2 separate regions of the Homo sapiens genome follow, and region 1 is linked to region 2. The links come from fine-mapping of genetic effects on gene expression. A gene starts in region 2. The other region holds a variant in brackets. All regions are shown on one strand. Distances are from middle to middle.

Region 1 (4,520 bases), 53 kb before region 2:
ATAAATCTTCACCCAGCCCTAGATTCTGGTTATGTTTTAGTTCTAAAAGGCTTACAGTTTTTTTTTTATGTTTAAGTCCATGATCACGTTAATTTTTTTTTTTTTTTGAGATGGAGTCTTGCTCTGTCGCCCAGGCTGGTGTGCAGTGGCGCAATCTCAGCTCACTGCAAGCTCTGCCTCCCGCGTTCACATCATTCTCCTGCCTCAGCCTCCTGAGTAGCTGGGACTACAGGTGCCCGCCAACTCGCCTAATTTTTTTTTTTATTTTTAGTAGAGAAGGGGTTTGACCGTGTTAGCCAGAATGGTCTTGATCTCCTGACCTAGTGATCCACCCGCCTTGGCCTCCCAAAGTGCTGGGATTACAGGCGTGAGCCACTGCACCCGGCCAAGTTAATTTTTATATAAGGTATGACATTTAGGTGGAGGTTCCTTTTTTTCCTTAAGACGTTCAGTTGCTAAAAATATATATTTTAAAGTACCTAGACCTTTTCTGGCAACAACAACAACAACAAAATCAACATAAATATATATATTTATGTATATTTATAATATATATATTATTTATTTTGTTGTTATTATTTACTCAGTCTCTATATATACATATATTTTGAGACTGAGTCTTGCTCCGTTACCCAGGCTAGAGTACAATGGCATGATCTCAGCTCACTGCAACCTCCGTCTCCCGGGTTCAAGCAATTCTAGTGCCTCAGCCTCCCAAGTAGATGGGATTACAGGCGTGCGCCACGACGCCCAGCTAATTTTGTATTTTTAGTAGAGACAGGGTTTCACTGTGGTCAAGCTGCTCTCGAACTACTGATCTCAAGTGATCCACCTGCCTCAGCCTCCCAAAGTGCTGGGATTACACGTGTGAGCCACCACACGTGGCCACAAAGAATATTTTTTAAAGACTAATATTTTAAAAGATGAACTACTAGATAGAAAAAAAATACTTTCTATGTAAAAAAGAAAAAAAAAAAAAAAACTGGCCAGGCACAGTGGCTCACGACTATAATCCCAGCACTTTGGGAGGCCGAGGTGGGTAGATCATCTGAGGTCAGTAGTTTGAGACCAGACTGGACAACATGGCAAAATCCTGTCTCTACTAAGAATACAAAAATTAGCCAGGCATGGTGGCGCACACCTGTAATCTCAGCTACTTGGGAGGCTGAGGCAGAAGAACCGCGTGAACCCAGGAGGCAAAGGTTGCAGTAAGCCGAGACCATGCCACTGTACTCCAGCCTGGGTGACAGAGCTAGACTCCATCTTAAAAAAAAAAAAAAAAAAAAGCCTGGGTGTGGTGGTTCACACCTGTAATCCCAGCACTTTGGGAGGCCGAGGTGGGCAGATCATAAGGTCAGGAGTTTGAGAACAGCCAGGCCAATATGGTGAAACACCATCTCCACTAAAAATACAAACATAAGCCGGGCGTGATAGTGGGTGCCTGTAATCCCAGCCGCTCAGGAGGCTGAGGTGGGAGAATCGCTTGAAGCCGGGAGGCGGAAGTTGCAGTGAGCTGAAATTGCGTCACTGCACTCCAGCCTGGGGGACAGAGCAAGACTCCGTCTCAAAAAAAAAAAAGAAAAAGAAAATAGCCAAGTATGGTGGTGTCCACACGCAGTCCCAGCTATTCGGGAGGCTGAGACAGGAGGGTGGATTGAGCCTGGGAGGTGGAGGCTGCAGTGAGCCATGTTCATGCCACTGCACTCCATCCTGGTTGACAGAGACAGACCTCAGCTCAAAAAAAAGGGAGGGTGAAGAAGAAGACATGTTCACGTATATTTGTATATACACAAACTACCTCTAGAAGTATATAAAAAGTAATTTTAAAAAACTTCCAAAATTTAACTTTTTTT[TG/G]AGATAGGGACTCACTCTGTTGCCTAGGCTGGAATGTAATGGCTTGATCACAGCTCACTGTAGTCTCAAACTCCTGGGCTCAAGTGATCCTCCCATCTCAATGTCCCAAGTAGCTAGGACAACAAGCTCGAGCCACCATGCCTAGCCAATTTTTAAGTATTTTGGAGAGACAAGGTCTCACTATGTTGCCCAGGCTGGTCTTGAACTCCTGGGCTCAAGCAATCCTCTTGTCTTGGCCTTCCAAAGCACTGGAATTATGGACATGAGCCACTGTGTTGGGTCCAATTTAACTTTTTTTTTTTTTTTTGCGTTTAGGAGTGGAGGTTTAATAGGCAAGAGAAAGAGAAAGGAAAATAGTTCTCTCTCTAGTGAGAGAGAGGGGTCTTCTGAGAGGAAATGGCCCCAGTTTAGCATTTTTAAGTGGGAGAAATAACAAAAAAACAGAGGCAGGGACAAAACAGAGCCAGGAATAGGGTAAAATCTCCTACAGAACCAATGAGAGAAGGCATGTAAACTTAAAGAGAAGGTATACATTTCACTCTAAGCCTTCTTCCAGCAGATAACACAAAAAGGGAGACCATATCAGTTAAACAGACGCAGCGTTCATCAGAAAAAAAAAAAAATCCAATTGCTCATGAAATTAGTTATACTATTCTCGGTACTAAGAATAGAGGGGATTTTTCTCCCTCTGGATCTGTCTAAAGAGAACACTGAATGGTGCTGTCAACATTGTCTCTACAACAGCTACAACAATGAGCAATCATTATTTCCCCTAGGGTATGGTCACTGTCATATGACAATATTAAACATTTTGACTTTGCAGCCACCATGTCTTTTGTCTTAAGCTGATCACAACCTTACCTTGGTTCCATTTGGTGTTGCAGGGGAGGCTGGGGAAAAGGCAGAGCTTGCGTCAGGAGATTTGGGAACAAATGAGGGTTGATCTAGGGCTGAAGCTGACGTAGAGGATGGCGAAGTCTCAGACAGAGGTTGGTTCTCCTGCATATGGGGTAGGACGTGCTCTACCACCCATCCAGAATAAGAAGATAGCTTGGGAAGAGACATACATTCTTCTAAAACATCCTAGAGAAAAGAATAGGGTTAAGCTCAACTTACACGTCAACTGTTCTCAGTATAATCCACTACATGCCTTACTGAACATCTAAGAAGGCCTAAATAAATAAACATCAAAGACCCAAAGTAATGTATTAACAATCAGATGAAAACAAAGTACAGTGGTTTCTTGATAATGACCTAGACTACTATCCTTCTAATGAAAATCAGACTAAATAACCCTAACTACAGAAAAAGGGACAATGCACAAAGATTCCCACTAAAGCATATGTGAAAGCAATCTAAAGCACTGAACAGAACACGAGGAATTCTGAAGTAAGCTACTGTATACACAATCAGTAGAATGTCAGTCACTTAACAATGGGGGTAAGTTCTGAGAAACACAGGGTTAGGTGATCTTGTCATTGTGCGAGTATCGTAAAGCATCCTTACACAAACCTAGATGTATATATTTTTTCATTTTTAAAATTAATTATTTTTGAGACAGGGTCTCACTCTGTTACCCAGGCTGGAGTGCAGTGACCTAATCATGGCTCACTGTAGCCTGACCTCCTGGGCTCAAGCTATCCTCCCACCTCAACCAGTCTCCCCAGCAGCTGGGAGTACAGGCATGCGCCACTATATTCAGCTAATTATTTTTTCATTTTTTATAGAGATGGAGTCTTGATATGTTGCCCAGGCTGGTCTTTTTTTTTTTTTTTTTTGAGATGGAGTTTCGCTCTTGTTGCCCAGGCTGGAGTGCAATGGCACGATCTTGGCTCACCACAACCTCCACCTCCCAGGTTCAAGTGATTCTCCTGCCTCAGCCTCCTGAGTAGCTGGGATTACAGGCATGCACCACCATGCCTGGCTAATTTTGTACTTTTAGTAGATACGGGGTTTTCTCCATGTTAGTCAGGCTGGTCTCGAACTCCTGACCTCAGGCGATCCACCCGCCTCAGCCTCCCAAAGTGCTGGGATTACAGGCGTGAGCCACTGTGTGCCCAGCCTTTTTTTTGAGATGGAGTCTTGCTCTGTCACCCAGGCTGGAGTGCAGTGGCACGATCTCAGCTCACTGCAACCTCCACCTCCCGGGTTCAAGCAATTCTCCTGCTTCAGCCTCCCGAGCAGCTGGGATTACAGGTGTCGACCACCACACCCGGCTAATTTTTGTATTATTACTAGAGACAGGGTTTCACCATGTTGGCCAGGCTGGTCTCAAACTCCTGACCTCAGGTGATCCACCCACCTCAGCCTCCCAAAGTGTTGGGATTACAGGCGTGAGCCACCACGCCCGACTATTTTTTTTTTTTTTTTTTTGAGAGACAGGCTCTCATTCTGTTCCCCAGGCTGGAGTGCAGTGGCGTGATCACGGCTCACTGCAGCCTCAACTTTTCATGCTCAGGTAATACTCCCACCTCAGCCTCTCAAGGAGCAGGGACTACAGGCACGCACCACCACACCTGGTTAATTTTTTTGTATTTTTTGTAGAGGTGAGGTTTCTCCACATTGCCCAGGCTGGTGTCGAACTTCTGGGCTCAAGTGATCTGCCCACCTTGACTTACCAAAGTGCTGGGATTGCAGGTGTGAGACACCAAGCCTGGCTCCCAGCT
Region 2 (4,000 bases):
CCAGGCTGGAGTGCAGTGGCCCAATCTTGGCTTACTGCAACCTCTGCCTCCTGGCTTCAAGCAATTCTCCAATTCTCCTGCCCCAGGCTCCTGAGTAGCTGGGATTACAGGCGTGTGCCACCATGCCCAGCTAATTTTTTATGTTTCTAGTAAAGACGGGGTTTCACCATGTTGGTCAGGCTGGTCTCAAACTCCTGACCTCAGGTGATCCACCCACCTTGGCCTCTCAAAGTGCTAGGATTGCACAGGCATGAGCCACCGCACCTGGCCCCCCAAAGTGGGGGGAGATCAGAGAGGCTGGAGCGACCAGGGGGTGGCAGGGAGGGTGGGGCAGAGACAGGGAGGTCCAAAATTATCATCTTGCCCTCTTTACAAACACTTGGGGAAAATAATGCAACATCAAAATGCAAGGAAAAAAATACTTGAGCACTTTGGTATGCGTTTTGCTGTATATGTATTACATCGTGATTTTAAAAAGAGGGGAAAAAAAAAAAATATATATATATATATAGACCTCTACTGATCCTTTAGCCAAGGAATACCAAAACTGAGAAGACAGGCTTTTTTCCCTAATCATTTAGAACATTGTTCACGTAAAGCCAATAGCTTTGGGAAATCTCTCAGTGGGTTTCTTGTCAAACCACCTGGATTCCATTATCTTGCTAACTGCCACATCCACCTCCTACGTGTTATTTATTTACACCTCGACTCCCTTCAAAAAGGCTCTGAACCTAGTACTCTATTATATAAAGACAACAAGAGTGACCCTGTTTGCTTCCAGGAAGCTGTGACATCTGGGGAGGGAAGGAGCGAGGGAGGTAGAGCTAGGATTGTGTATACATTTCGTTCCCCCTTCCCTTTAAAAACGATTTTTAAACGTTTTGGTCCAGACTTTCAGCAAACACAATGAGGAAGCTGGAAGCCTCAGGCGAGCCTGCCCTGGGGACCCCTGGCCACCTTTCCCTGCCCTCCGGCGCAGGCGCCTCCCACATCGGCAATACCTGGGGGAGCCGCCTGAGGATGAGGCAGACATGGCTAGGCATCAAAGCCGCAAAGGTGGGCAATTGGGTCAGCAGGCTCTGCTCAGGGGGACCCAGAGGGGCAGGCTTGTCAATGAGCCTCTCAAGGGGCCCGGCATCAAACGTCCTCTCTGAGGGGAGAAGGGTGGAAGCTTTGGGGTTGGCAGTTGGATGAAAACTTGGGAGGCGCTCCTCTACTGTCCAAGTCGCACAGCAACTGTCCTGCCAAAGTAGGGGGAAATAGTAGAGGCTGAGCGACCTGGGGGCAGAGGGGAGGAAGGGGAGGGGACGGGGCAGAACCGCGAGGGAAAGGACCACCGCGCCCGGGTCCCACGCGGAGGACTGCCGGTGGCTACCGGGGGAAACCTGAGGCGCCGGCGGACGTGCGGAGAGGGCGGGTGAGAACCGCTCGGCCCCAAGTGGGCCCCAGAGGGCCAGAACCGCGCAGGGAGCCGCGGGGATGCTGGGGCGGGGCCGGACAACTGTCTCCTAGGAGAAGGGGCGTTACGGAAGAACAGATGCCCGAGAGGACCAATAGTGTTTAAAGGAGGGAGGCGCGGAGGTTGCACGGGCCCCGGGCGCCCCGCCGCGAGGGAAAACCGAACAGAGTTCTGAGCAGGATAGACGCCGGGCTGGGAGGGGGCGGGCGGGACCCCCCCCCGCCGGGCGAGGGCCCTGGCAAGCCGGAGACGGTGCCCGGGGGACAGCGCTGCCTACGGAGGGCGTACAAGTGACTGCCATGTGGAGGCCCGAGGAGAGGACGAGGCGGTCGGGGCGATGCCGCCGACGGGCAGCAGAGCGAGGGAGAGCCTCTGTCGGCGGAGAGAAGGGACGGCCACCCACCAGCAGGCAGGAGGGTACCGGTTTCTGCCCATAGAGAGAAAGGTGAAGCCCTGCCCGCGGGCGGCAGAGGAGGGGCAGAGCCCCGTGGTAGCCAAGAGAGGAAGGAGGCGGCCGACCGCCCGTTAGCGGGAGGAGGAGAGGCCCCGCGCCGGTGGGCGGGGCGGGGGCCCAGGTTCTGACAGGAGGGGGACGAGCGCAACGCGGCGGGGAACCCAGGACCCGACGGCCCCGCGGGGTCGACCGCGCCGGGGGTGCGAAGGCGACGGTCTCGCCCGCGGTGCCCCGGAGGGCGCTGGATCCCGCCTGCCGGCGGCCTCTCACCAGGAGCGACACGGCTGCGCCCAGAAACGCCGCCTTATGAAGTCGTTGAAGTCGGAGGCCAGGGTCGTGCCATGGAGACGCCGCGGCGGATGCAGTCTGGCTCTGGCAGCGGCTCCTCCCCGCTTCCGCCTCCTTTTCCGACACCCGGTCGGCAGCTCGCCCATTGGCCAGTTCAAACCCCCCCGGGAGCCGCTTGGGTTTCGCCATCGAGGCCCAGCCCCTAGCGTCACAGAGATGCCCCGCCCCGCCAGAAGGGCCGCCCACTTCCGGGCCACGCGTCCCGTCACCAAGGAGACGTGCTACGCGTCCAGCGGGCCTGGCCGGGTCTCGCCCCCCATTCAAGGCCTTTCCCGCTCGGCCCTGTTTCCCCTGCCTTGGATCCTCCCGGATTCCCCTCACTCAAAGGAGCGTACGGTTCCGACGCCCTCCCCTCGGTACCCACCAGGAAACTAGGCTCACAGAGGACCCATGGAACTAGTTATTGGGAGCTGCACACTGCCTCCGAAAATCCAGCCCTGCCCCTAGTCCACTATTAATGCGGAGATGGAGTCGGCTTCTGCGCATTCCCCGGCCTCTCCCCTGCCCACATCGCCTCTGTCTTGGCCCCAACAGGAGAAAGGGTCGGCATTCCCCTTGCTGTTCTGTTCACTACCTTCCTGCACTTTTTTTTTTTTTTTTTTTTTTTTTTTTTTTTTTTTTTTTGAGACAGATTCTTGCTCTGTTGCCCAGGCTGGAGTGCAGTGGCGCGATCTCGGCTCACCGCAACCTCCGCCTCCCGGGTTCACGCCATTCTCCTGCCTGAGCCTCCCGAGTAACTGGGACTACTGGCGCCCGCCACAACGCCCGGCTAATTTTTTTTTGTATTTTTAGTAGAGACGGGGTTTCACCGTGTTGGGCAGGATAGTCTCCATCTCCTGACCTCATGATCCACCCGCCTCGGCCTTCCAAAGTGCTTGTATTACAGGCTTGAGCCTCCGCGCCCGGTCTACTACCCTCCTGCACTCTCTATGCCGCTCTGTGTACAGACCTATTCTGATGAGGTCCTTGCTGGTCCGCCATCTTCTCAATTATGCTTCACTGTCAGCCAGTCAGGGGAGGTCTGTCACGTGGCTCATAATGCCGCCCTGGAATCTGGGAGACCTGAACCACCTCCGGGCCAACTGGGCCACAGTCCCTTGACCTTTCTCCAGTGACCCCGCAGCACCTTAGCCACACAGCTCCAGGGTCACACAAGTGTTTCACCTGCAATCCTAAAGTCAGACTCGCAAACAAAACCTGCTTTTCCGCCTCGCTTTCACAGTATACTGCATACTGAATTTGTTCTGTAATGTCAGGGAGCTCCCCAATCCCTTGATCCATTCATTGTCTCTCTGTTGAATAATTGATAGATTTCCTAATCCTCATTAACCATTTAAGACTGCGGTGGCTCACGCCTGTAGTCCCAGCACTTTGGGAGGCTGAGGCAGGCGGATCACCTAAGGTCAGAAGTTCAAGACCAGACTGCCCAACATAGCGAAACCCCGTCTCTACTAAAAATACAAAAATTAACCGGGCATGGTGGTGTGTGCCTGTAATCCCAGCTACTAGGGAGGAGGAGGCAGGGAGAATTCCTTGAACCTGGAAGGCGGAGGTTGCAGTGAGCCAAAATCACCACTACACTTCAGCCTGGGTGACAGAGTGAGACTCTTGTCTCAAAAAAAAAAAAAAAAAAAAAAAAGTATATACAGGTTCAAGGAAAAGAGGACAGGAAAAGGAGGTCCCGGTCCTCCTGGGGCAGGCAGGAGATGGTTCCCAGAGGTGATGGTATTGGAACTGAG

The links. PIP is the estimated chance that this variant, and not a neighbour inherited with it, causes the effect. A credible set is the group of variants that fine-mapping cannot tell apart.
Region 1: its variant is the best candidate, but not a certain one, in a credible set for the expression of ODF2 in cerebellar hemisphere (GTEx, PIP 0.82).

The regions. Positions count from the first base shown.
Region 1 is chr9:128,507,293-128,511,812 of GRCh38, reverse strand. It overlaps GLE1 (GLE1 RNA export mediator), which reads right to left. Exons shown (of 16, transcript NM_001003722.2): 2 at 2,716-2,937. Among named protein-coding and RNA genes, the nearest start is that of GLE1, 4.8 kb to the right of the region's middle. The variant TG/G (reference allele first, on the strand shown) is at 1,854.
Region 2 is chr9:128,454,439-128,458,438 of GRCh38, reverse strand. It overlaps ODF2 (outer dense fiber of sperm tails 2), which reads right to left and starts at 2,433. Exons shown (of 21, transcript NM_001351578.2): 1 at 2,184-2,433. The coding sequence starts at 2,347. RefSeq lists enhancers at 416-1,151, 1,152-1,887, 2,481-2,530, 1,888-2,623, 2,661-2,750 and 1 more and silencers at 1,281-1,330, 1,541-1,690, 1,721-1,820, 1,951-2,260.